3 separate regions of the Homo sapiens genome follow, and all the other regions are linked to region 2. The links come from fine-mapping of genetic effects on gene expression. A gene starts in region 2. Each other region holds a variant in brackets. All regions are shown on one strand. Distances are between the middles of the regions.

The links. PIP is the estimated chance that this variant, and not a neighbour inherited with it, causes the effect.
Region 1: its variant is fine-mapped to the expression of CASD1 in breast (GTEx, PIP 0.99).
Region 3: its variant is fine-mapped to the expression of CASD1 in transverse colon (GTEx, PIP 0.92).

Annotation. Positions count from the first base shown.
Region 1 is chr7:94,472,464-94,480,651 of GRCh38, reverse strand. No RefSeq gene overlaps it. Among named protein-coding and RNA genes, the nearest start is that of CASD1, 33 kb to the left of the region's middle. The variant T/C (reference allele first, on the strand shown) is at 3,561.
Region 2 is chr7:94,505,599-94,513,786 of GRCh38, reverse strand. CASD1 (CAS1 domain sialic acid O acetyltransferase 1) reads right to left here and starts at 3,978. Exons shown (of 18, transcript NM_022900.5): 1 at 3,570-3,978. The coding sequence starts at 3,702. RefSeq lists silencers at 3,315-3,674, 3,775-3,924, 3,965-4,184 and enhancers at 2,718-3,704, 3,705-4,693.
Region 3 is chr7:94,427,846-94,436,016 of GRCh38, reverse strand. COL1A2 (collagen type I alpha 2 chain) reads right to left here. Exons shown (of 52, transcript NM_000089.4): 49 at 8,132-8,171; 50 at 7,540-7,724; 51 at 6,587-6,829; 52 at 4,790-5,770. The coding sequence ends at 5,624. Among named protein-coding and RNA genes, the nearest start is that of COL1A2, 37 kb to the right of the region's middle. The variant A/G (reference allele first, on the strand shown) is at 3,834.

The sequences.
Region 1 (8,188 bases), 33 kb after region 2:
TGTTGCAGGCTAGGTAGGGGGCCAGGCTTGCAAATATGGAGGATACCAGGGAGCTGTACCAGGGAGCTGAGACTAGCCTGGGCAACATGACAAAACCCAGTCTCTACAAAAAAAGTACAGAAATTAGCCAGGCGTGGTGGTGCGTGTCTGTGGTCCCCATTACTCAGGAGGCTGAGGTGGGAGGATCACCTGAGCCTGGCAGGTCGAGGCTACAGTAAGCCATGATCATGCCACTGCACTCCAGCCTGGGCAACAGACTGAGACCCTGTCTCAAGAAAAAAATAAAATAAAATAAAAATGAACTCGGGTGGATAATGGATAGAGCAGAGAAGCTGAAATAGAGCTACCATAGCATGGTGGGAACAGCCTGCTGTTATGTTGATTCTGCTGTTATGTTGACGTCATTGTATGTGACCGTCAACCATTCATATTGTTCTTGCCTCACTTGCTCATATTCACTGCATGGGACAGGAGCATTCAATGGGCTAAGGTTAGGTCGTGTGGCCACCTCCTGACTGTACTTAGAGATGGGAACTTCGCAAGGCAGACACCCCCAATGTGATCTCCAACTCTGATCATACACATAGAGGGGATATTACTTCCTAAAAGGAGGTTAGAGTGCAATGAAGAAGTAGAATGGCTAATGACAGGTGTCTACTGTATATTAAGTCACAGAGACTAGACAAGAAAGTACAGAGACTAGAGAAGACAGTTCAGTTTGGAGTTATTGAGAGACTTTATGAAAGACGCTGGATAAGCCATCCCATTACTGGGTATATACCCAAAGGATTATAAATCATGCTGCTATAAAGACACATGCACATGTATGTTTATAGTGGCACTATTCACAATAGCAAAGACTTGGAACCAACTTAAATGTCCAACAATGATAGACTGGATTAAGAAAATGTGGCACATATACACCATGGAATACTATGCAGCCATAATAAATGATGAGTTCATGTCCTTTGTAGGGACATGGATGAAACTGGAAACCATCATTCTCAGCAAACTATCACAAGGTCAAAAAACCAAACACCGCATGTTCTCACTCATAGGTGGGAATTGAACAGTGAGAACACATGGACACAGGAAGGGGAACATCACACACTGGGGTCTGTTGTGGGGTGGGGAGAGCGGGGAGGGATAGCATTAGGAGATATACCTAATGCTAAATGACGAGTTAATGGGTGCAGCACACCAACATGGCACATGTATACATATGTAACAAACCTGCACGTTGTGCACATGTACCCTAAAACTTAAAGTATAATAATAATAAAATTAAAAAAAAGAAAGACGCTAGATAAACAGAAGTTGAGATGAGATCCAGAAGGGAGATTAAAAATGCTACACCAAAGAAAGAAGGTAACAAAGATGCCAACAAAAAAATACAGGCTGGGCATGGTGGCTCATGCCTGTAATCCCAGCACTTTGGGAGGCTGAGGTGGGAGGATCACATAAATTCAGGAGTCTGAGGCTGCAGTGAGCCATGATCTATACTGCACTCCAGCTTGGGTGACAGAGTGAGATCTTGTCCAAAAGAAAGAGAGAAAGACAGAAAGAAAGAAAGAAAGAAAAGGAAAGAAAGAAAGAAAGAGAAAAGGAAAGAAAGAAAGAAAGAAAGAGACAGAGAGAGAAAGAAAGAAAGAAAAAGGAAGAAAGAAAAAGAAAGAAAGAAAGAAAAAGAAAGAAAAGAAAGAAAGAAAGAAAGAAAGAAAGAAAAGAAAGAAAGAAAAAGAAAAAAGGAAGAAAGAAAGAAAATATATCTAAGCCATCTAAATTCAGTGTGTGGGATGAACTCCACTCCTGGCCTAATGCGATCTTCCTGCCTCAGCCTCCTCCAAGGTTTTATTGATGAATTTAATAGGGTGGCTTTATGGTGAAGCTGCATAGTTTCTAGCAACAGAAGCATACCGTCCTTCGATTAATAAGTTTCAAGGGTTATTAACAACCACTAGGACCACAAAAGACTTCTGTGGCTGAGATGTTTGAGTTAAATTTTAATTCTCTTTTGCCCACCATATAGTTAGAACTGAGGCTTATGAATCTTATTTCATTTTTCTAGAAAATAAGCTGGATTTTTGTGATAGCAATAAGACAACCAATGAAGACCCCCACCTGTCTCTGTTTCAACATAATTTCAAATAAACACATAAAACCTACTTCAAATGTAACATTTTCATGAATACAAACTTCGGGATTCCTCCCCCCAAGCATATGAAGTTACGCAGATCTGTATTTGAATTTCATCTTCTTGCTTACTAGTAGAGTGATGGTGGATGAGTTACCTGGATTATTTGCTTTAGTCTCATCAGTATAATGAGAGCAGAAGATATCCAATCACAGAACTTATTATAACATCAATCACCACTTTGAGGGGTGATCTAGGTGCATATTAGGGACTTAAGAAATATTAATATCAGTTAATTGAATTCAAAATAATCTGTAAAATGATAGAGAAGTGCTTCTTTATGTTGGTTGTTATGAAATTATATTACTGTTGTTTGTGGTAGTCCTGTAAAGCAGAGCTCTCACTTTTTCCCAGAAACAGCAGGAAAAGCAAACATTTCTCTAGATAACATGAGTAAACATGAATAAAATGTATTTACAGTATCCTACCTTGATGATGGATTTGTAAATCTGTCTGCTTTCAGATGTTCAAGACCGAGGGAAATTGCACAGGAAAATAATCTTGTATTTCTTTATCAAAACTAGCAAAAGTCAACATGTATCATAAATTGGAAAAAGTCTGTAAGTCTGGAGTATTTTTTAAAGTGTTTTATTTTATGTATTAGCTTGGTGTGCTTGGTAGCTCAGGGAGGGTGGTGATTACTGACTTTCCCATCTTTAATTTAGTTTTTCCCACTAAAAGTGACAACTGACACAAGGTGGGCTGGGAAAACAACAAAAGTGCATTTTCCTCCCCAATTAGAGGTAAAGAATATGTTCTTTTTGTTATAGATTCCTGTGCATAAGGCTGAGTAGGATGCCAAAAATTAATGGGCTGCTATAGTTAACACCATTGCTCAGAAGCAGGAATGCAAAGACAGACTCTGTCAGTGAGAGGTGGCAGCAGCTGGCTCTCTAAATACCCCGCAGAACCATGCATGGGGGCTTTACTTTGGTGAATTTATCAAAAGATATGGCCCTGAGCTTGTCTAGGCTTGAAGCCCTAAAGTTTTTGTCGACTCATGAGAATGGATGCATTTCTCAGTGACAGATTCATGGAAACCAAACTCACAAGGCTGATGTCTAAAATTGAGTGCCAATTCATTAATTTTTAATGGGAAATAGAAGTGTTCCACTAACCAGAGAACTATAGTCTATGAACAGTCCATTCTGTCTGTGTAGATAAGTGAACATGAAATGTCAATTATGACCTGAAGCTTACTTGATGAACATAAAATCACAACAAAATAAACAGGTTCAGTAAACATTCTTTAACAGTTAATGCCATCTCAGGATGCAGTCAATTTCATTGGCCTGAGAGCTTCATCTCTCGCTTTTATATCTCCTTTCATCAGTACTGTGTGCTAAGTTTAACCGTTAAAGGTCCA[T/C]CTTCCGTCATCTCCCAGCCTTAGGGAAAACTGTAATCCTTTATGTACTGAGTACAGGAGAAGTCTACTATTGACTTTCGCTCTTGCCAGGTGTCCTTTATAAAATGAGGTATAAATTAAGATAACAAGCACAATTTAAAAAATGTGTATTTAGGCAGCACATAGAAGTCACACGTATTCTCAAAAAGCTGAGAGCTTAACAAAATTGAGTCATACAGAATTTATGAAAAAAATGTATTGACTGTTATTTACTGTTAAAGAAGGCAGAAAGGGTCATCTGGGTGAGGAGCAGAAGAGATGCTAGATCTGAAGGTCTGAAAAATTTCTGGTCTCTGAAGTATTCGGTAATGAGAGTACTTCATCATCCCTCATTACCAACTGGATGAAATATGCGTAAACACTGTCCATGCACTTATCCTTGGATTCCAGACCCTCGCATGCTTTAGTAACTGCAAAGACGATACCCTGAATTGTGCAAACTACATTGGAACATACGTGAAATTAAGCTCTGTTGTGGCTTGTAGCTGGTTGACCTCTGGACTGTTGGGAAAGTCATATTTAATATATAGTTTCAAATTTCTTGCCCCACACTAATTTTGTTTTTCCTTACATTTCCAGTAAAGTGTGGTATGTGACAAAGGTCAATGAAGAAAGTAAAGGAAAGGGTTTGGGGATTGCTCAATGTCCACTTCCACATCCCCCATCCCCAGATGCATCCACAGACCCTTGTGTAGCAGCATCCTCTGCAGAGTCTATAGTCTAGGCATTGTTGGCCATGATTGAACCCTGGGTCCACAGGTACCACTTTGAGGGGTGATCTAGAATGGATCTAAACCCAAACTACCAAGATTCATTTATATTACAAATAAAAACAATGTCCATTCCCTCCATTTCAGAAAATCACATCTTTAAAGAGTTTTGTCTTTTTGTCCTGACTCTGCTCTTTGCCAATCCAAAGTGTCTTTGTAGGTGGCATTTCCTGAAGATGTTCAAGGGAAAATATTCGATTGAAGAGAAGTCTCTTTTTGAGGGGCAGCAAGGATGTCCTAGATTGGAGAATTCCTGATTCTTATTAGAGAGAGGTGAATGAGTCTGTATTTTTGAGAAGAAAGAAAAGAAGGAGGGAATCTGGAAGGCAAAAGTTTCCCAAGAGCAGTGGGAAGAACATATGAAGTTACACTGATCTGTATTTGAATTCTATCTTCTTGCTTACTAGTAGAGTGACGGTGGATGAGTTACCTGGAGTCTTTGCTTTAGTCTCATCAGTATAATGAGAGCAGATATCCAATCACAGAACTTATTATAACATCAGATGAGTTCACAAACAACATACCCATCAAGGTGCCTAGCCCACTGTGGTGTTCAAGTGCTAGTTTCCTTCTTACCACATAATGTTGAATTGTACCAGGTGAAAAAGAGGACTTCTGGGATAATAACCTTTTCTTCCTGGTTGATTGAAAGTTTCTCTTACCTTAATGTGATTGCCCTGATAAAACCCAGAAAAGAGCTCTTTCACGCCTTGTCTGCAGACATTCCTGCCGGCAATCTCTTTCCCTGATTCACTTAGTGTACTTACCCTTGCTGTGATCACCCATACAAGAGGGAGATTGGTTCAATTCTGCAATGAGGAGAATATTTCACTCTCCCACAGCGGCAGTAATGGCTCTTCTGCCCTTGGGGAGAGAGATAATAGGGGCTACTGAGTTATTTGAAAGTTTCATCTGTATAGTTTTGTCCTTTTCCACTTTTGTCCATTTGATCTTAAGCAATTTTTTAAAATACTTCTTGATGGTATGCCAAGCCGGGATCTGGAGGTGGTTCACTTATTGTTATATTCTCATTTGTTTTCCAGATCTTTTAAGATGGATCCATCTAACTTAGTTTTACATTGTTTTATAATTAGCAGTTTCTTGTACCCTCTGATTCTTAGACTTCTTTACCTTCTGTATGTATGTATCTCTGGATACCATAAATACAATATTACAGTGAACTAACATTTTCACCAAGCAGAATCAAATCTAATCTCACATAACTTGTCTTTCAAATGTAACAGCTAAGGTTGTGATTACCTGGGGGCCCAGGGCATGAAATGAGAATACTAAAACAAGAGTATAAAATAAGGCAGATTGTTTTCCAACAGGAATTAGATATATAATTAAAATTATGTTCAACTTTTTAGGCATAGTCTAGATTTGACTATATCTGGGATACAGGACACAATAAATACTTTGTGTCTCTGACTAGCAGTGAAAACATCTAATTTTTAAAAATGTACCTTTAACTGTAATGTCCTATATTGTAAAGGCAATCAGCTAAACAGTAGATATGGGAATGGAATATGGTTAATATATACCTACACAGAAATTACATTTGGAAAGTGCTGATCACTTGGTTTTCAAAGAAGAGATGATGATTTGTTATAGTCACTACAGAGACATCACAGAAGCCATTGTATGTTTGTAGTTGAATTTAAGATACAGAAAACTCTGGTAAAGCTTTTCAAGTTGTATTCAAATCATTCAGTGAATCAGAGGTGAGAAATGTTCTAAATCAATAACCAGCATTCTAATGTGACTTTTATGTAATTCCTCAAGAGGAGGTCCAGGAGACTCAATGCAATGTGACTTCTAGTCAAGCCCAGACAACCTGCCACCCTGTTCTTCCAAAAGTAAAAATGAACACATGGGAAGGAGCAAAGCTACCCACTTGGGATTCTATTGCTTTTCACATGTTATTTTCCATTCTGCTTGCCTCCCCCACCAATTTCTCACCCCTGCTATTTCTTTCACTGCCAGTATGGCAGAGAAAAACAAATGTGGTATTGGTACATATTGGTGAATATTGTACATATTGGTACTTGAGTAAGATTTTCTATTTCTGTTCACAGTGCAAGGGTGCCTGCAGAGCAGGAAAATTTTTCTACAGTCTTAAGGGTCCCTTGGGCCAGATGCTGACTGATATCCTGCTGAATTTAGAAATTGTTATTTAAGATGACCTTTAAATACATTACTTTACAGATAATTAGGACATAAATTAGATTTCAAAGAACCAACATAGCAAGATGATTAAGGAATAAGCTCCAGAACAGAATCCTCATTCTTTATACACCTTATTCAGTATGCAACTGTGGGTAAATTACTTAACCTTTTTGTGCCTCAGTTTTCTCATTTGTAACATGGGGATAATCATAATGTCTACCTGATAGGCTTGCTGTGGATCAATATGTTGATATGTAAAGCATTTAGAACATGCCTGGCTCATGATTAATGCAATATAAGTGTTTGTTTTCTTAAGTCTGCAATCCCTTATGTGCAATTCTGAAATTGAAAAGCTGAAAACAATTGGTTCATCTTGTAGCAAACTCATTCAGTGGTAAGATCTGACCGGAACTGATCTGTGACAACTTATAAACTTCACTTATCCCACTTTGCATGAATATTCATATGTAGGATGGTAGAAGTATTAATGCGTTTCATTAAGAGCTACTGCCATACCCCTTGGGGTTGTTACATGAGATAATTCACAACTTACTTAGATCCAAGACATTCTGAATTCCAAAGGACATCAGGTCCCATGGGGTTTTCTAAGAAATTGTTGACCCATGTTGCTGTTATTTCATCTGATACGATAGTAGCACCATTCTTGTTTTTTATTTGTTAATGGTTTGAAAATGTGGAGGCTTTCATACATGGTGGAGTTAAATGACACAGTGATCTCCCAAAGTTTGGGAATGAAAATTCTGATTAATCAGATATTCTGACTAGTACAGAGTTGATTTATATATGATTAGCTATGGATTACACATTTTTAAAGAGTTTGTATTGAGTATCATCAATCCTAAAGCTTCCTTCAATAAGTGCAGCCAATATTAATTGAACACTTCCTTTGTACCAAGTGCTATGTTAAACAACTTACATGAAATTTCATTTAATTTTCTAAACAGGTCTGTAAAGTAAGCTTTTAAAATCATCATCTCACTTTACATGTAAATAAATTGAGAAGTCATGTAGGTAATCACTGAAACTCAAGCCCAAGTTTGGGCACTCGAAACACATGCTCTTATACATAAGTTGATTATATTTAAATATAAATTGATTATCCTTTGAAGATTCAGAAAGAATGACTCATGACATTATTGTGTTCCAAAGACATCATTAAGAACACTACTACTTATTATGATTGCATTTATCATGTCTTTTCTATATGCTAAACATTGTGCTATGAATAGAATTATGCTTCGATTGTGAGCAATTCCAGTTTTAAAAAGTTGATTCAAAACACCTAAACAAATATTGTTTCATTATTTCTATTCAGTTTCACTAGACTTGCTACTCTGTGGTTAGTGATTCAGAATGAAAAGTGAATAAAGCAAAGGTCTTGCTTTTTAGGAGATTATAATCCCAGGTAAAGTGGTTGCTCTGGGGGTTAATGTGTATAACTTTTTACTCTTAATTTAGAGTTAATAGGGTACCTAATTTAGAGTAAATAGGGACATTTAGCCTACACAAAATGTGGAAACTTTACTATCATATAGGCTTAATATTCCCCCACCTATCCTTTATGTGATATAATGATATGATCATATATCATGATGTATTGTGCATTATATATAGCACAATTATCATGTA
Region 2 (8,188 bases):
TTTGAAATCTATTTATCCACAGTTATTTAAGGATTTCCTATTGTGTGTTAGGCTCTGATGATTTAAAGGTTTAAAGATGAGTAAGATACTCTTGGAAGCTCAACAGTTTGTGTGGGTAGGCAGATACCAATTATTACAATACAACACAATAAGTATGTGTAAGTTGCTGGCAGAACTGAACTGCTAATTCCTACTGCTGTGGGTGTGACATTTGAACCAGGCCTTGAAGGAAAAACCTATATTTTCTTTCAAGAGAGAAGTCACTGCAGGCAGAGAAAATCAAATAACTGTGAGACGTATAAACGGGCAAAGCACGTTTAGATTGTGAACCTGGAATTTGGGGAAAATAAGGAAAAAACATAGGTAACAAAAAGTAGGCTCAGGTCAGATTTTGAAGCTTTACACAAACAACTTTTAGAAAATTACCTCCTGACTGGAAAAAAAAATAGAAAAACTCTTAGCTGGTACAATAAAGTTGATTTTTTTTTTTTTTTTTTTTGGGATGCGATCTTGGCTCACTGCAACCTCTGCCTCCTGGGTTCAAGTGATTCTCCCTGCCTCAGCCTCCTGAGCAGCTGGGATTCAGGTGCCCGCCACCACGCCCAGCTAATTGAAGAAGAAGAGGTTTCACCATGTTGGCCACGCTGGTCTTGAACTCCTGACCTCAGGTGATCCACCCGCCTCAGCCTCCCAAAGTGCTGGGATTATAGGCGTGAGCCACTGCGCCCGGCCTGAATTACTGTTTCTAAGTTGTTTAACCCATGCTTCCCTGGAAAATGCTTTCTCCCTCTATCTTCTATACTCCCCACTGTCTAAGAAGTTCTGAGAAAGACAGACTGTAACATAAGGCATGAGACAGACTAACTGGGATCTAAATCCTAGCTCAGTCACTGTGTATCCTTAGGCAATTTAATCTGTCATGCTTCATATTTAAAATGGAAATAATACTGTAATTCACTGAATCTAAGACCACTGATTATTAGACACATGATTATTTTATGTCACAGTAAGAAAAAAATGTTACCAATTAAACTTTGACATGCAATCAAAGTTTTAAAGACTCACCCTGATTACAAAGATGTTAAAAATAGTGGAGAGGAGTGAAATATGGTAATTGTATCTACCTCATAGAATGGTTATAAAGACAAAATGAGTTAAAACATGTAAAACCTTTAGTAGAACAGTCCCTGACATATAAGTGCTCAACGTTAGCACACAGTATTCGCCAAGCTTTACTTTCTGTAGTGGGTAATTCTTTCCTTTACTTTCGGTAGTTTGTAAAGCAAGAGATACTGAATATGTATATCCAAACTGCATTCACTCTACCTTGCCTCAGCACACTCATACTCACACATTCAAAATCCAAATACACAGCCTAATCTCCTTCATCTAATGTAAGATCCTTTCTTATTCTAAAGCAAGATTTTCCAAGCCATGGCCTGGGCTGCTGGAGGCCCAGGATGGCTTTGAATGCAGCCCAAATTCGTAAACCTTCTTTAAATGATACGAGATTTTTTGCAATTTTTTTTAAGCTCATCAGCTATCATGAGTGTTAATATTATGTGTGGCCCAAAGACAGTTCTTCTTCTTCCAATGGGGCCCACGGAAGCCAAAAGATTGGCCACCTCTGTCCTAAAGAGTTATAATGTGAGTCAAATGTATGATTATCTTTGTGTGAAGGGCATTGCACCTGACTCAGTTTGATACTGCCAAAGCATGAGGATATTCCTGGTAAGATGTTTATTTTTCCCAGTCTTCAGCTCAAATTCTTGACATTCAGTCTGGGCAAGTACACTCACCAGGTGTATGCTTCACACTCAAGGCACTGAAGTACCTATGGAAACTGATGACTTACTTCTGGAGAAGGCTTTATAAACAATCCCAGATTGCTACACTGACTCATAAGTCCCCATCTGACATTCTATTCTCCCTGCTGATGACAGATCTTGATAAGATGAAATCTATAATCTAAAAATAATAGTAGTCCAAGGTTATCAAAAGATAAAAAGCACAAAAAAATAAAAGGAAGGGGACTAGATGTTTATTTATCTTAGGACAATAGTACTGTAGTTATAAAATTTCTCTCTACTACCATTACATAAATTGAATTAAATTACTGTTCTTTTATACCAAATTGGCATAAAATGATTAATAGTAGTTAAAAGAAATATTTCCTCAAAACCACCACAAATCAATGCATCAACATTGCTAGTTTTACATGATTGTAGATAAACCAAGGCCTTGCAAGGTCGTATGGCTGTGATCTGGAGAGAGCTGGAGAGAGGCCAAAAGGTTATAAAGAATCTAATTTTTAAAATCAATTTAGTATACTAAAAGCTGTTCACCCAGTATGGCTCTAGAGTACAATATTTTTAATTCTCAAGAGTTGGAAGAAATAAAGCAGCAAAACTGACCAAAATTGAAAGATCTCCTGGGATGAGAATACAGCGCAGACTCCAACAACCCGTTTATGGATATTTTGCCAAAGTAGGTGTAAATTTAAACGGGCACAGCGCTAATTTGCACCTGTCCATTACACATTACATCTTGACTGATTAATCTCACAGTCACCAAGAGCTGGCCAGATAATGGCTTTGATAGTATTAAGAGCCAAAAATAAAAGATCCTATCATTATTAATTTCCCTCTGCCTGTCAGCCTCTCTCCCAGTGACATTTTTACAAAGGAAAAAAAACAATCAATCAGCAAGGAGAAGTAAATATCCCTTGATTACTGAAAGATAATTCATTCTCAAATCAGGTCATATTTCCTTTTCCCCTTTACACCAATTTCAAAACCCATGGCCAAGGCCTGCTTTCAAAGTGCTTACAACTTGCTTTCAACTGCCCACCTTTACGCCTGTCAACCCACAACTTCCTTCCAAAAATCTGCTCTGGTGCCTTAACTTTGTAAAAAGTGTGCACTCCGAAGCCTTTAAACGTTTCTGCATCACAAAAGCTGGGTGGCACCTCTTCCATTTGGCCACAGGCATCTTTTGCCAGCTGTCGCCCTTTTGGCAAAGGAAAATGGGGGCGGCCCTTGCCGCTGTCCAACAGCCCAGACTGGGTGTTACAGGGCAGAGGCAAAATTAAACAAAGGCTAAGGAGCCGGACCCTTAAGAGGCAGGACCTGCGACCCCACTGCTGGCAGCGGTGCCCCTTGCAGGGCGGCCTTGGGCTTCATGCGCCCCGGGCTGCCCCCAAGGACCGCCTGTCCGACTTCCTGCACGCGAGCCCCTGATCTGGAGCGTCTCCCCGAACCCAGACCGCTCAGGAGCCGGACCTCAGCAGCACTTTTGGCCAGGTCCAGGGTTGGCGCCCCCGACCCCAGCGCGGGCGGCTCGGGGCGCCCAGAACCACCAGCCATTGTCCTTTGGTGGCCCCCACTGGGGTCCACTCAGTTGGCCTCGGGCGCCGGCCGCTGCTGGGGACACCTGGGGGAACCGCCTCCCCCGCGGGCCGGGCCGGCGGAAGGCCGCGTGGGCGTGTGTTGGGCGATGGGGGCGGCCTCCAGCCGCCGCGTCGCCGCCTCCCCCACGGCCTGCCCGGGCAGAGGGGAGGGCCCGCTCACCTCGGTAGCGGCGGGAGGCGAGGTGGCACGCTGCGAGCAGCAGCACGGCCACCAGCGCCAGCACCTTGGCGCTCCTCACGCTGAAGTAGTGGTTGATCTCCCGCTTGCCCAGGTTGTAGGCCAGAGCCGCCATCTTGGTTCCTCCATGACAACAGTGCGCGGCGGAGCGGGAAAGGGGCGCCGCACAGGGGCAGCACTGGGGCTGCCGCCGCTGCAGCCAGGCGAGGAGCGGCCGCCAGCTCCCCAGGCCGCCACCTGCGCCTCCCGCCGGGGAACCTGACCCCGCGGCCGCGGCGCCCCCGACCTCCGCCTGCCCCTCCTCGGCCGCGGCCGACTCGGCGGCCTCCCCCCAGCCCCGCCGCCGCTGCTCCGCCGTGCCGGTTCCCCAGGCGCCCTGGACGCCTGTCTCCTCCCCTTCCTCCTCCTCTTTAGCCTCCTGCCTTAATAGCGGCTGCGCCTGCGAGGGGGGTCCGGATGCCCAGTGCTCCGGGGTCACCGGGTCACGCGCCCCGGCGGGCGGCGGCGGCTGCGGCAGAGCCATGGGGGTGTGGGGAGAGAGTACTAGGGGTACCCGCCTGGCCCGGACGCGAGCCTTAGGGCTGTCTCCTAGTTTACTGGCCGCTACCTGAGCCCAGGTTGGGGCAATAGAACTACAGTTCCGGGAGAAAAGTACACATCGTCCCATTCCTTCCTTCCCCAACACTCCCCTTTCTCAGCCTTCTACTGCCAGAACCCGCCCAGCGGGATGCGAAGGACACCCTAAGGTCGTTTATTGTCTGGCTATCCGTGGCCTGGCTGGTCAGTCTGGCTGCCCCTGGGTGCTGGCCAGATTGGATTGATGGATCCAGTTGATGGTGCTGGCCGATGGATTGCTGGCATCCAACCCAGGAGTGAAACCAGTCTTAACACTTAACTCACCGCTCTGGCCAGTTTCTCTTAAACCGTTTTTTTAATGTCCTCAGTTTGCCCAGTTCTGGTGGGCGAAAGTACACCAAAGTTCCGAATGGAAGGTACAGAAGGAGCCTAACTTAGTGTAGGTGTTGATGAGAAAAGAGTCTGACTCTCACTTGTATTTACGCAAGTTTGGCTAGGTCGATGTGCCAAAAAAATTCGTTTTTTTTGAGAGGGAGTCTCACCCTGTCGCCCAAGCTCTAGTGCAGTGGCGTGATCTTCGCTCACTGCAGCCTCCCCCTCCTGGGTTCAAATGGTTGTCCTGCCTGAGCCTGCCGAGTAGCAGAGATTGCAGGCGCCCGCCACCACACCCGTTTAATTTTTGTATTTTAATAGAGACGGGGGTTTCACCATTTTGGTCAGGCTGGTCTCGAACTCCTGACCTCAAATGATCTGCCCATCTCGGCCTCCCAAAGTGCTGGGATTACAGGCATGAGCCACCAAGCCTAGCCAAAAAAAATTTTTCTTAATGTGCTTATGACAATCATCCCCGCTACTAACGTTGGTTAATGTTTTGTGATTCTCAATAAAGCCAGCACTCCATTTCCTTAATAAAGCATTGTTATCCCTACTCTCCTCTCGCTCCCACCCCACCTTTTTTAAATGGTTTTTCTTGTTGCCTTCCAGATGGGAATGGTTATTTACATTGCTTGCCATTCTACTTGCCTTGCCTTGTTTAGAGTGAGTCATTGTTTAGTTGGGGTGTTGTCAAGTATTCTTTACAACTTTCCCATTTAGCCATTCCTGAACTTGTGCTTATAGGCCCCTCTTAAAATTATAGAATATTAGATATGAAGGGACTGTAGAGATCTTGTCTACTCATTCCCATTCTCTTCATCCAAGGACTCTTTATTATGTTTTCATCCATGGACTTTATATCTTGAAAGATTTTGTCACTTAAATGAAATCACATACATCACTGTCATGGATGTAATGCTAATAAGCAATAAAGTTAAATAAGTGTACAAACACTTAGGCACTGTTCCCTGCAAATAGTCTTTTAATTTTGGCTGTCATTCTGATCAGAGGTTGATCACATGTTGTAAGAATTGGGTATTGTAAAAACCAGATAACTCTGCCAACAATATATGGTCTGCCAATCACATCCTAGACATTTCTATGATGTCATTACCAGCAAATTAGAATTTCTGATCAGCATGCAATAACCAGTGTTAACCCAAAGGGTTGAGTTAATGCCTGCAAAAAGTAAAGAAACTTGACATTCTATTAATTGCAATTTCCAGAAGGCTTTCTTAAATACTGTAAATAGCTTGTGAACCTCCTTTTTCTTCTCTCAAGTTTAAGGCCAATCTCTCTACCTCTGCTCTGAATCTTTTCTTATCCTCCTTTCTTGAGGGTGTTGATTCCTCCATCAGTTATCCCCATGCAAATCATTCTTTTTCTGTGTCTTCCAATTCTCCCTATCACCTTGCTGTTTGCCTTCCTCCAAAAAAAATTTTTTTTTAATGAAAAACACCCATGGACTCTGTTCCTGCATGTTTACCTCATCAACTCTTTCCTCCTCTGGCAAACATCTAGAAAGAGCAGTGTTGACTCTCTGCCTTCACTGGCTCAATTAGCATTCTCTCTTCAGCCATTTCATTGTTCTTCACCAAGGCTGTGTGGTATGACTACTTGTTAAATCCAAGGGACACTTTATATTCCTTATCTTCCTGGACCATTTTGTGGCACCTGACATTGTTGACCATTCTTCCTTATTTGGTATCCATCTAAAACAGAGCGGAGACTTTGTTTTCAGCCACTTCTTGCTGTTTTTAAGTGACCTTAGGATCACTTAGTCATTATTTAGTGGTCCCACCACTGCCATGGGATCACCTTCCTTATACACACGCGCGCGCACACACACACACACACACCTGATATGTCAGTCCATATTTATCTATCCTCATGCTGTAAGAACCATCTGCCTACTAGGATATCCTTCAGGTACCTAATATATATCATTTCCTAAACAAACTCATCACCTTCCTTCTCCTTTATCTACTTTCAACCTTTATGCCTAAGTTTTCATCATTAACCCAGCCGTCCAAGCAAGTGTTTGAGTCATCCTTGCTTTCTTCTAAATAACTCTCAACTGTGTTGCCCCCTCTCTATCCACTTGCTGTTACCTTGGTTAAGGGATGATTTCTTGCCTGCATTTCTTATCCTTTTACTCGTCTTTCTCAGGTCACTCGAAAATCCAACCCTACTGCCATTCTGCCATACCTCTTACCAGACAGAACTTTCTTAAATTAAAATCTCGTAATGTCATTTCCTGCTAAAAACTAGTTAGTGGCTCCACGTTTATTTCCTGACCCCTGAGCTATCCAGAATGTTTACTAATGCTCAGCATGTTACCTCACACCTTAATAATATTTTAAAAAGAGAGAGACAGAAACCATCTGACAGAAACTCTCTCAACCTATGCATTATTTTTATTTTTATTTTTATTTTTTGAGATGGAGTCTCACTCTGTCGCCCAAGCTAGAGTGCAGTGGTGTGATCTTGGCTCACTGCAACCTCTGCCTCCCAGGTTCAAATGATTCTCCTGCCTGTCTCCCGAGTAGCTGGGACTACAGGTGTGCACCACCACGCCTGGCTAATTTTTGTATGTTTAGTAGAGACGGGGTTTTACCGTGCTGGCCAGGCTGGCCTCCAACTCCTGACCTTAGGTGATCCACACGCCTCGGCCTCCCAAAGTGCTGGGATTACAGGCATGAGCCACAAAGCCGGCCCTATGTATTACTCTAAAACAAACTGCTACACTTTATCTTTTCCCTTCTGATTCAAAGAAAAATTCCTCCTCCCCTTTCCCAAAACTGTCACTCTCACCTGTGTGTATGATTATACCAATATCATTTCATTGAGAATCTGGTCTCCTAAGTTCCCCTTCCTTATTTCTACCTTTAATTTATCTCTCTTCATTGTTTGCCAAATTCATCCTATCTTCCTTAATGCACCACACAATCTCTCTTTTTTCACCACCAAACTTCTGAAGGAACAGTTTGTGGTTACTTTCCCCATTAAAAAAATTGTTTTTACTATTTTTCAGTTCTTTACATGAAAACTAACTTATGTCCCTACTACTTTACTTACTTAAACCACTCTTTCAAATGAGGGCCACATCCTAAATTACCAAATTCAACATATTTATCTTAGCTTTATCCTTCTTGGCTGTGCAGCTTTCTTGAAATATTTGCTTTATTCAAATCTCTCCTCTTACCTTTCTCATGCATCTCCGAAGATTCCTCTTCCTTTCTCAAAGCCCCTTTTTAAAAGCGCTTTTCAGGTTTCTCATTTGCCTACTTCTCTTCTTAGCAAACCTAAATTGTAAGTTGGCCTCAACTATCACTCCTGATCCACACGTGCAACCTGGCTTCTCATGGTCCTCTCATTTTCATATACCTAAGGGACAGCTTCAATGACTCGCATAGTACCTCAGACTCAATATGTTGGAAAACAAGTTTTATTTTCCTTCTAAACCTTGTTTATCCTTTTAATTTTCCCTTTAGTTCATTGGCACACTATCCTTCAAGTCATTTCTGCTAATCTTTGACTCATCTTCTTTCTACTCTGCCTTCTACTCATCTAAAGTATAGGGTTTTGGCCAGGTGTGCAAGCCTGTAATCCCAGCTCTTTGGGAGGCCAAGATGGGTGAATCACTTGAG
Region 3 (8,171 bases), 78 kb after region 2:
AATATGTTCACTTTGATAGTAAAAATGCATTGTGTGCTTTGCTTAAAAATGTCTTTAAATTTACGGTGAATCTCAATTTTAAGGATACCTTTCTAGATTCCAGTAAGATTGTTAATTTTGGCCAGAATTAATCCTATGTCTGGAGCTCAGAATAATAGGTTTGCTTTGGAGCAATCAGATGAAAAGATTTGGTTCTATTAGGTGATTTGAGGATCCCTGGAAAACAATTACAGTATTGTCCTCAAGACATTTTACAGTGCCAGAAATTGCAATAATTTTTAGGTTAAACTCTATCACTTTTCAAAATTAAAAAAACTAATACAAGCACATTTTACCTAAAAGGCATAGCTCAATTAATTGTCCCCCATTACTGAGTTTGTTTGCTCTTCTTTAAAAAGATTCTGAAGATTGGTGTATTTTTATGTTACAAAGTACAGGTCATAAGGTATATGTCAAGCCTAGTTAAAGCGTAGGACAGAGGACTCATACCAGAAAAGTGGAAGAATAAAAGACAAACCATTATTTACATTTGGACTGGTGCTGGTTGGTTCTCTCAGGTCTTAGGGTAGGAGAAGCAGCATGTTCTGAGTAAGACACCTAAGATGAGATATGAAAGTCATAGTTCAAGCCGGGTGCAGTGGCTCACACCTGTAATCCCAGCACTTTGGGAGGCCGAGAAGGGCGGATTACCTGAGGTCAGGAGTTCGAGACCAGCCTGACCAACGTGGCACAACCTGTCTCTACTAAAAATATCAGATTAGCTGGGCATGGTGGTGCATGCCTGTAATCCCAGCTACTAGGGAGGATGAGGTAGTAGAGTAGGTTGAACCTGGGAGTTCAAGCTGTAGTGATCCAAGATCGCACCACTGCACTCCAGCCTGTGCAACAAGAGTATAACTTCATCAAAAAAAAAAAAAAAAAAAAAAAAAAAAAGAGAAAGTCATAGTTCAGAAAAGTCCAGGGTTTAGCGATGTGGATAATACTTCTTTTGTGCAGTGGCTTATAAAGTCTAATTGGGACATGGACCCCTAGGAATATCAGATGAAATTTGTGGACTTTTCTTCCAAGAAAAATGCACATACCCACAAAGTGTATTTAACATGTGATTTCAGGAGTTCATTGATGCTCCTCCTCCCCTGAAGACCATCCTTGTTTAGTGCAATACTCTCTAAAATGGAAGGGGGTGGTGCATGCATCCCAGGGGCGTGCAGAATGATCCACTGGACTATGGACCCTTCTATGTGTATTTATTTTCTGTCTTTACAGATTTTTTTTCTGTAGAGGTTTTATATTGCATATACTAGCACCATAATATATACATAACATTTATATATAAGTAAGTAAATTTGTTGTAAGAACTCAAATTTTTACTGATAAGGAGGCATAACTCAAAATTGATACACTACCACTTTAGAGAGTGGTGCTAATTAAGTGTAAATTCTACACTCTCTTCTTCCTAAATTAGAGGGCCAGTGATCAGAAAATAAATCAAGAGGCTACCACCAGTGGCCAGGAAATTTTGGACCTAGTGATGACAAGTCTATTGTGCATACTTTACTCAGCACTTTCACACATGCCTGTTTTGGTACCCCCAGCAGTTCTGTGAGATGATATGTGTGGTAATGGCAATCTCTAAGAGCAGGCATGTTAACTAAAGCAGGCATGTTAACTAAATTCTCAAAAAACTTAAGAGACTTTCCCAAGGGCCCTGGGCTAGTCAATGGCAGAGCTGATACTCATAGCCTTGGCTGCTGACCACAAATTATGTGCTCATTTCACTGAAGAGCAGGGATAAGTCGCTCATTATGGGTTGTCTATGGCCCCATTGTTGGACTTACTAGTGCTCCCTAAGGATATGGAGTTGTCGAATCCCTGGCTGATCCAGGCACAAGGATAGAAAACATATTTTAGCTACTTGATCAGAGGGTTAGGAAGCTGAGCTAACAATTCAGCACTAGCTCTCTCCTGTTGGTACTGTAATACCAACATATTTCAAAATAGATAGAGGACTCTGGAAGGGTTTAGATACATCTATGTACAAAAAAGATTTACAATGGGTTATTAAATGGGAGTTCTGAGGCTGGCTTCACAAGAAGTGCCAACTGCTCTTTCTCCCAAATTTCCCCTGGTGCCACTGTCAAAGGCAAAGTACTCATCTAGATGGATTTTTGTTCTGACCCAGAATGACATTTCCAACTTTTCTTATATATAATCCAATTTCTGAACTTCCTTTACAGTGATATTAAGTGGAATAGCATAAAAAAGTCTTTTGGCATTAAAGATAATAAATGTATTCAGCATTGCTCAGGTATCTTTGCTCTTTGCCAATGCATTAGCTGTATTGATTTTAGAATTTTAAATGACCCTTTTTACTAGACTTGATTAATGTCCCCTCCCTAGATCTTGGCTACCTGCTTCTTCTCTCTTTCATGTGCAATTTTCTTCCCTTTCACACTCCTACAAGTTAGAGGTGGCTGACCTTCACTCCACCAAGGGTCAAGAAATGTTGTGAGGAGTATGCTTTGGGCCTGGTGATCAGCCTCTAAAGAGTGGGCTCGTCATGGAAGGGCCAAGTCTTCAGTCTATTGCTCTATGTCCACATTTGAGTCTAGGCCCTGGGAACACTCACAGTGGACCTCCTGGCTTGGTAAGTACCAGGCTGTTTTAATATGTGACTTCCAGAGAAGAAGGATTGAGCCAGAGAGCTTGAAGGTGAAATGAGATCTCTATCAAGAGAGGCCAGTTCAATCCAAATATCAGTTACTGTGTGAGACAAAGGTTAATTTCCCGAGACTCCCTCTAATTAATTAATAGTGTCTTCTGTTATCCTCAGAGGATATGTAATTTAAAATTCTGTTCACACATTATTTTATTCTGCCTCTGGAACCGCACTATAAGCTCCCTGAGCTCCCTGAAGATGCTGTGGCCTGGTAGAGCTTTGTACACCCTCCCAAGCTTCTCTCAGGATGGCTGGTCCATGGTGGATGATGACCCTTAGGCCAGGCTTGTCCTTCTCTTCAGGAAACAGGTGGGTGGGAGGTTGACCACTCCTTCCCTGGAGATGGCTACTCCTGAACCAGATTCTTTTCACTTTTGACTGCTTCTTTCATAATATTTTAAGAGTAAATTTGTTGTAAATAATAATGTAATATAGCTACATTGTTGCAAATTTGAAAATTTTAGGCCTAAAAATCATCCTTAAACTTCTATACAAATGTGCCTACTCTCAGCATTTTTTTACATGTATATTTAAAATATCTAATTATAATGACAGTGTTCTTGAATATTAGATTTTCAAGATTGAAAATTCTATTCTAAGAAGTTTTTCTTTTGTTAAATCATCCTTATAAATGTTATTGGGATACCAAAATTTATTTCACTATTCATCCTATCGTTATCTATTAGATATACTGTAATTTGTTTCCTCATTGTTTACTGGATATACCATAATTTGTTTCCTCATTGTAATCCATTAGGTGTACCATTATTTATTTGACTATTTTCAGTTGTCTCACACTGATGATGATTAAGTGATTATTAAGTGAGCATTGGCTTAGGAAATCTGCTAATTCAGATTCAGTTTGACAAAGGTCATTATTATTATTTAGCATGGCTTTTGCCTCTAGCAGGTACTCAATAAATGCGTTTTATTTTTTTTTGCTATAAGTCTGAGGGTATAGTTCATATTTGATCCAGAGATTTCTGTTTTATCATGTAAGTTTGCATGGTCATTTTAATTACTAATTTATAGAGAGTACCAGCATTCGGATCCCAGGAGTTATCTTTATATATGGTTTGGTCAGATATATATATTCCTTCTTGTCAGACACAGA[A/G]TATTAGAGCTACAAAGGACTATGGCAGTAACCTCATCAGGTGGTCCTTCAATTGGTGCACATCTGAATTTCACAGGATGCGTAAGAATAGCAATTTCTTACTAAATCTGAATTTGGCAGATGAGGACCAGGAATCTGCATTTTGATTAGGAGACCTTGCTAACTTTTTAAGGTTAATATTACATTTTTACCATGTTCAGTCTTTTGCCTTTAAAACTAATTGAATCTTGAGATGACTTATAACACAAGGCAAATATTACAATCACAATTATGTTCTGCAACAGGAAATAAGCTCTAAATGAATCTTAACATTTTACTTGACACATTACTATGTTTAAGTGTATTAAAGATGTTATTGAAAGGTGCAGGGGAGGAAAATGAACTTGATTTGGCAGGTAGGTGTTCGTGGTACTATTATCCACAACTGTCTATCCTGATTGACAGCACACACATTACCTCTTAACAGGCATTGTATTCAGTTGCCTCAGATTTAAGTGTATGGCATTTTTACTGAATATTTGAAACTGTTTTAGTTAATAGTATTAATTGCTCATAGACCAACTTTCAGCCACTGTTATAAAGTGCTTAATATATAATAAACCAAGTTTCTATAGACCTTTGGTTATAGTAAAATTAGGTCAAAAATGCCATGTTGCTTAAATATTACATATTTTGAGTAGGGCAAATGCTTAATAGTGCTGAAAAGGAATTTTTTCATATTATAGCTATGGAAACTGAAATGCAGAGGCTCAGAGTTTCAAGGTCACTCAGCCACAAGGAACAGAGCCAGAACTGGAGTTCAGCTCTCCTGGGTCCTCGTTCTCTGCTCTTTCTACCACACCAAACTGCCCTTTTTGCATAATTTCTATCTAATCAGAGGCACTTGGTCTAATGGCTGGTAGAGATGCATATTTATATTGCAAAGAGCATTGAAGCAAGGAATTTTACTCAATATGTTCTTTTGGAAAACCAAACATGCTTTATTTCATTTTTTTCACAATTTATTTAAACATCTCACATATACAAAATAGGTACAATTTAATTTTTCTGCTTGCCCAAGAAACAAAGCTTCTGTGGAACCATGGAAGAAGATGAAAATGAGACTGGCAAAGAACAAATGCTGAATCTGAAGAAGATTTGGGCAAATAATCTGCATACTTTTAATTGGGAATAAGATGGAAAATATGAATGCTAAATCAAATTTTTTAAAAAATACACCACACGATACAACTCAATACAGGAGTATTTCTTCTCAAATTCTTCTAGCACCATCAACATTCTTCAAGTATCTGAAATACTATTAATTAGCACCTTTGTATTATGAACAAAACAAAACAAGGACCTCAGTTCATCTCTGTCTAGGTCAGCACCTAACAATGTGGATCACACTCATGGGAAAGTGTTTTGAGGTAGTTTAAACCTTTGGAAGTTTGGGTTTTAAACTTCCCTCTGTGGAAGATATTCAAAAGCCACAAGTGGTGCAAATGTTTATGGTTTTTATTTTTCAATTTTTATTTTGGTTTTCTTACAAAGGTTGACATTTTCCATAACAGGTGTAAGAGTGTTGAAAAAAAAATTCAAATTTTTGGGGGAGCGGGGGAAGGAGTTAATGAAACTGTATTGCACAATGCTCTGATCAATCCTTCTTTTTCTCTTTTGCCCACAATTTAAGCAAGTAGATGTGCAGAAGAAATGGAAGGATTCAGCTTTCAGTTAAAAAAGAAGAAGAAGAAATGGCAAAGAGAAAGTTTTTTCAAATTTCTTTCTTTTTTAATTTAGATTGAGTTCATTTATTTGAAACAGACTGGGCCAATGTCCACAAAGAATTCCTGGTCAGCACCACCGATGTCCAAAGGTGCAATATCAAGGAAGGGCAGGCGTGATGGCTTATTTGTTTTGTATTCAATGATTGTCTTTCCCCATTCATTTGTCTTTTTCTGTTTAAAGAGAAGAAAATAGATACACAAAGCATCACTATTTCTGAATCTGATAATATCTGAACCTTTGATTTAATAAGAACCACTGTTTGGCATGTGTCATTCTGAAGATGTCTGTCCCAGATAAATAAGTTCATCCTTGAAATAACAGTATCAAGGGTGTCTTTAGTGGGAGGGGCTCCCTATCAGTCTAACAAAAAACAAACAAACAAACAAACCAAAAAAACCAACAACATTTCAACACACATTCCAAGTGACCTATCTCTACAAAGTCATTTTTAGGATTGTTGTGTGTATGTCCCTCTATGTGTGTCTTTGGGAGCGGGACCTGGGTGGGTATGTAGTCTTGCTGTTAGTGAATTTTAATTTTTCTTATATTTATAGCATATTGTAGAAAAAGCATTAAAAGTTAAATGTAGGCCATACTAATAAGTAAAATAAAATACACATAACTATAAATTATAGTTTAGGCCACTGAAGTCTCAAGAAATTTTAAGTTCTGGGCACACATTACCATTTAAAAAACATGCTAAAGAAAAAACAATGCATGGACATAGTATACATTTCAGCATTTCAGAAGGCACTATCTGATAAGAATACTCTGAATTTATCATCTGAATTTAAGTACGAAATTAATACGTATAAATAAATAAATATAAAATACATACAAAAACTGAATTTACTTATGAAATAAGTTAGTTCTCTCATTCTTCTGTTCTTTTAACCCCCCTTTAGACCCCCCCTTGGGGGCAGTCTAAGTTAGAACCCCCTCCATCCCACTTCCCAAAGCTATTCCCATATTTCACTATTACTTACAGAGCAGCCATCTACAAGAACAGTGTAAGTGAACCTGCTGTTGCCCTCAGCAACAAGTTCAACATCATTAGAGCCCTGTAGAATGACAGCCTTTTTCAGGTTGCCAGTCTCCTCATCCATGTATGCAATGCTGTTCTTGCAGTGGTAGGTGATGTTCTGAGAGGCATAGTTGGCCAGCAGGCGCATGAAGGCAAGTTGGGTAGCCATTTCCTTGGAAGTCACTCCTTCTACATTATATTCAAACTACAGAAAATAGGATGAAATTCCAGTTAAGTGGAGAAGGACTCAGATACTAAGAGTCAAACATGAAAAAAAAAAAAAAGAAAAAAAAAGATCTCAGGAAGAGTAGACTCAGATCCAAGCTTAGGAAAAGGGTACTTTTAAAGAAAACTTAATTCACTTGTCTTTGAAGTATCAGTTACCTAGATGAACATAAGACCTACTAGACTGAGGCAAGGTCATCTAAAAAAGTTATCTGTTTCAATTAATCCTTTTTGCATATGCTTCTTCTTTAGAATAAGAGAATGAGGAGGTAGAAATTCTGACATTTTTCTTTTTCTGTCATTTTGTAATTTATGGAATTCCAGTAGGCATTCAGTAAAGTTGGTGAAAAGGTTTGATTAAAAATTCAGAAAAGCTGCTCACATTCTGAAAATGCATATGTATGAGTGTGGCATATAGCTGGCCAGTGCTCCTTCACACTAAATGACATTAGTCAGTTTTTTCAATGATTACCAATTAAGTCAAATTTGAATAATAACTTTGAATTACATGGATGTGTCCAATCAATCCATCTTCTAATGTGCAATTTAGGACAAAATTGGAACCCAGGAAAGGAACAGGTCTTTTTTTAATAAGCCCATTTTTGTCAGAGATTAAAATGCAGATAATTAACAAACAGTCCTACCAAAATATTATTTAGCAGAAGGAGAGGTGTTTGTGGGATTCCTCACCTGGCTGCCAGCATTGATAGTTTCTCCTAGCCAGACGTGTTTCTTGTCCTTGGAGCTCCTATACCAGTTCTTGGCTGGGATGTTTTCAGGTTGGGCCCGGATACAGGTTTCGCCAGTAGAGAAATCACAGTATACTTTGATAGCATCCATAGTGCATCCTTGGTTAGGGTCAATCCAGTAGTAACCTTTTAAGAAAATAACATTCAGATCATGAAACTTCTCATTGAGCAGAACACAGATTCTAATAATAACTAATGAAAGATACTGACTCTCATAAGTAACATTTTTGATTGTCTACCCCATATTTAAGAGGAAGAGGGTGGCTATTTTTAAGATTAGACAGTTCCTTCCCTCCCCTCCTCCATGAAAAATCAAATCAGGGTACTTATTACTATGAAAAGTGCAAAAATACATTTTAAGGGAAATGAGGTTGGGTGCTGGTTGGGAGAAGATGACGCTCCATTAATTGGGTGTGATTTCACATAATGTAATCTTTACCCAAATGCATTTTCACTCTAAATGTCAATGGAAACTAATTTTGAAAAGCTCAACTTGTGAGAAGGGTCAGTCTGGTCTGGACATCTTGACCTACCACTGCTCCACTCTGGGTGGCTGAGTCTCAAGTCACGGCA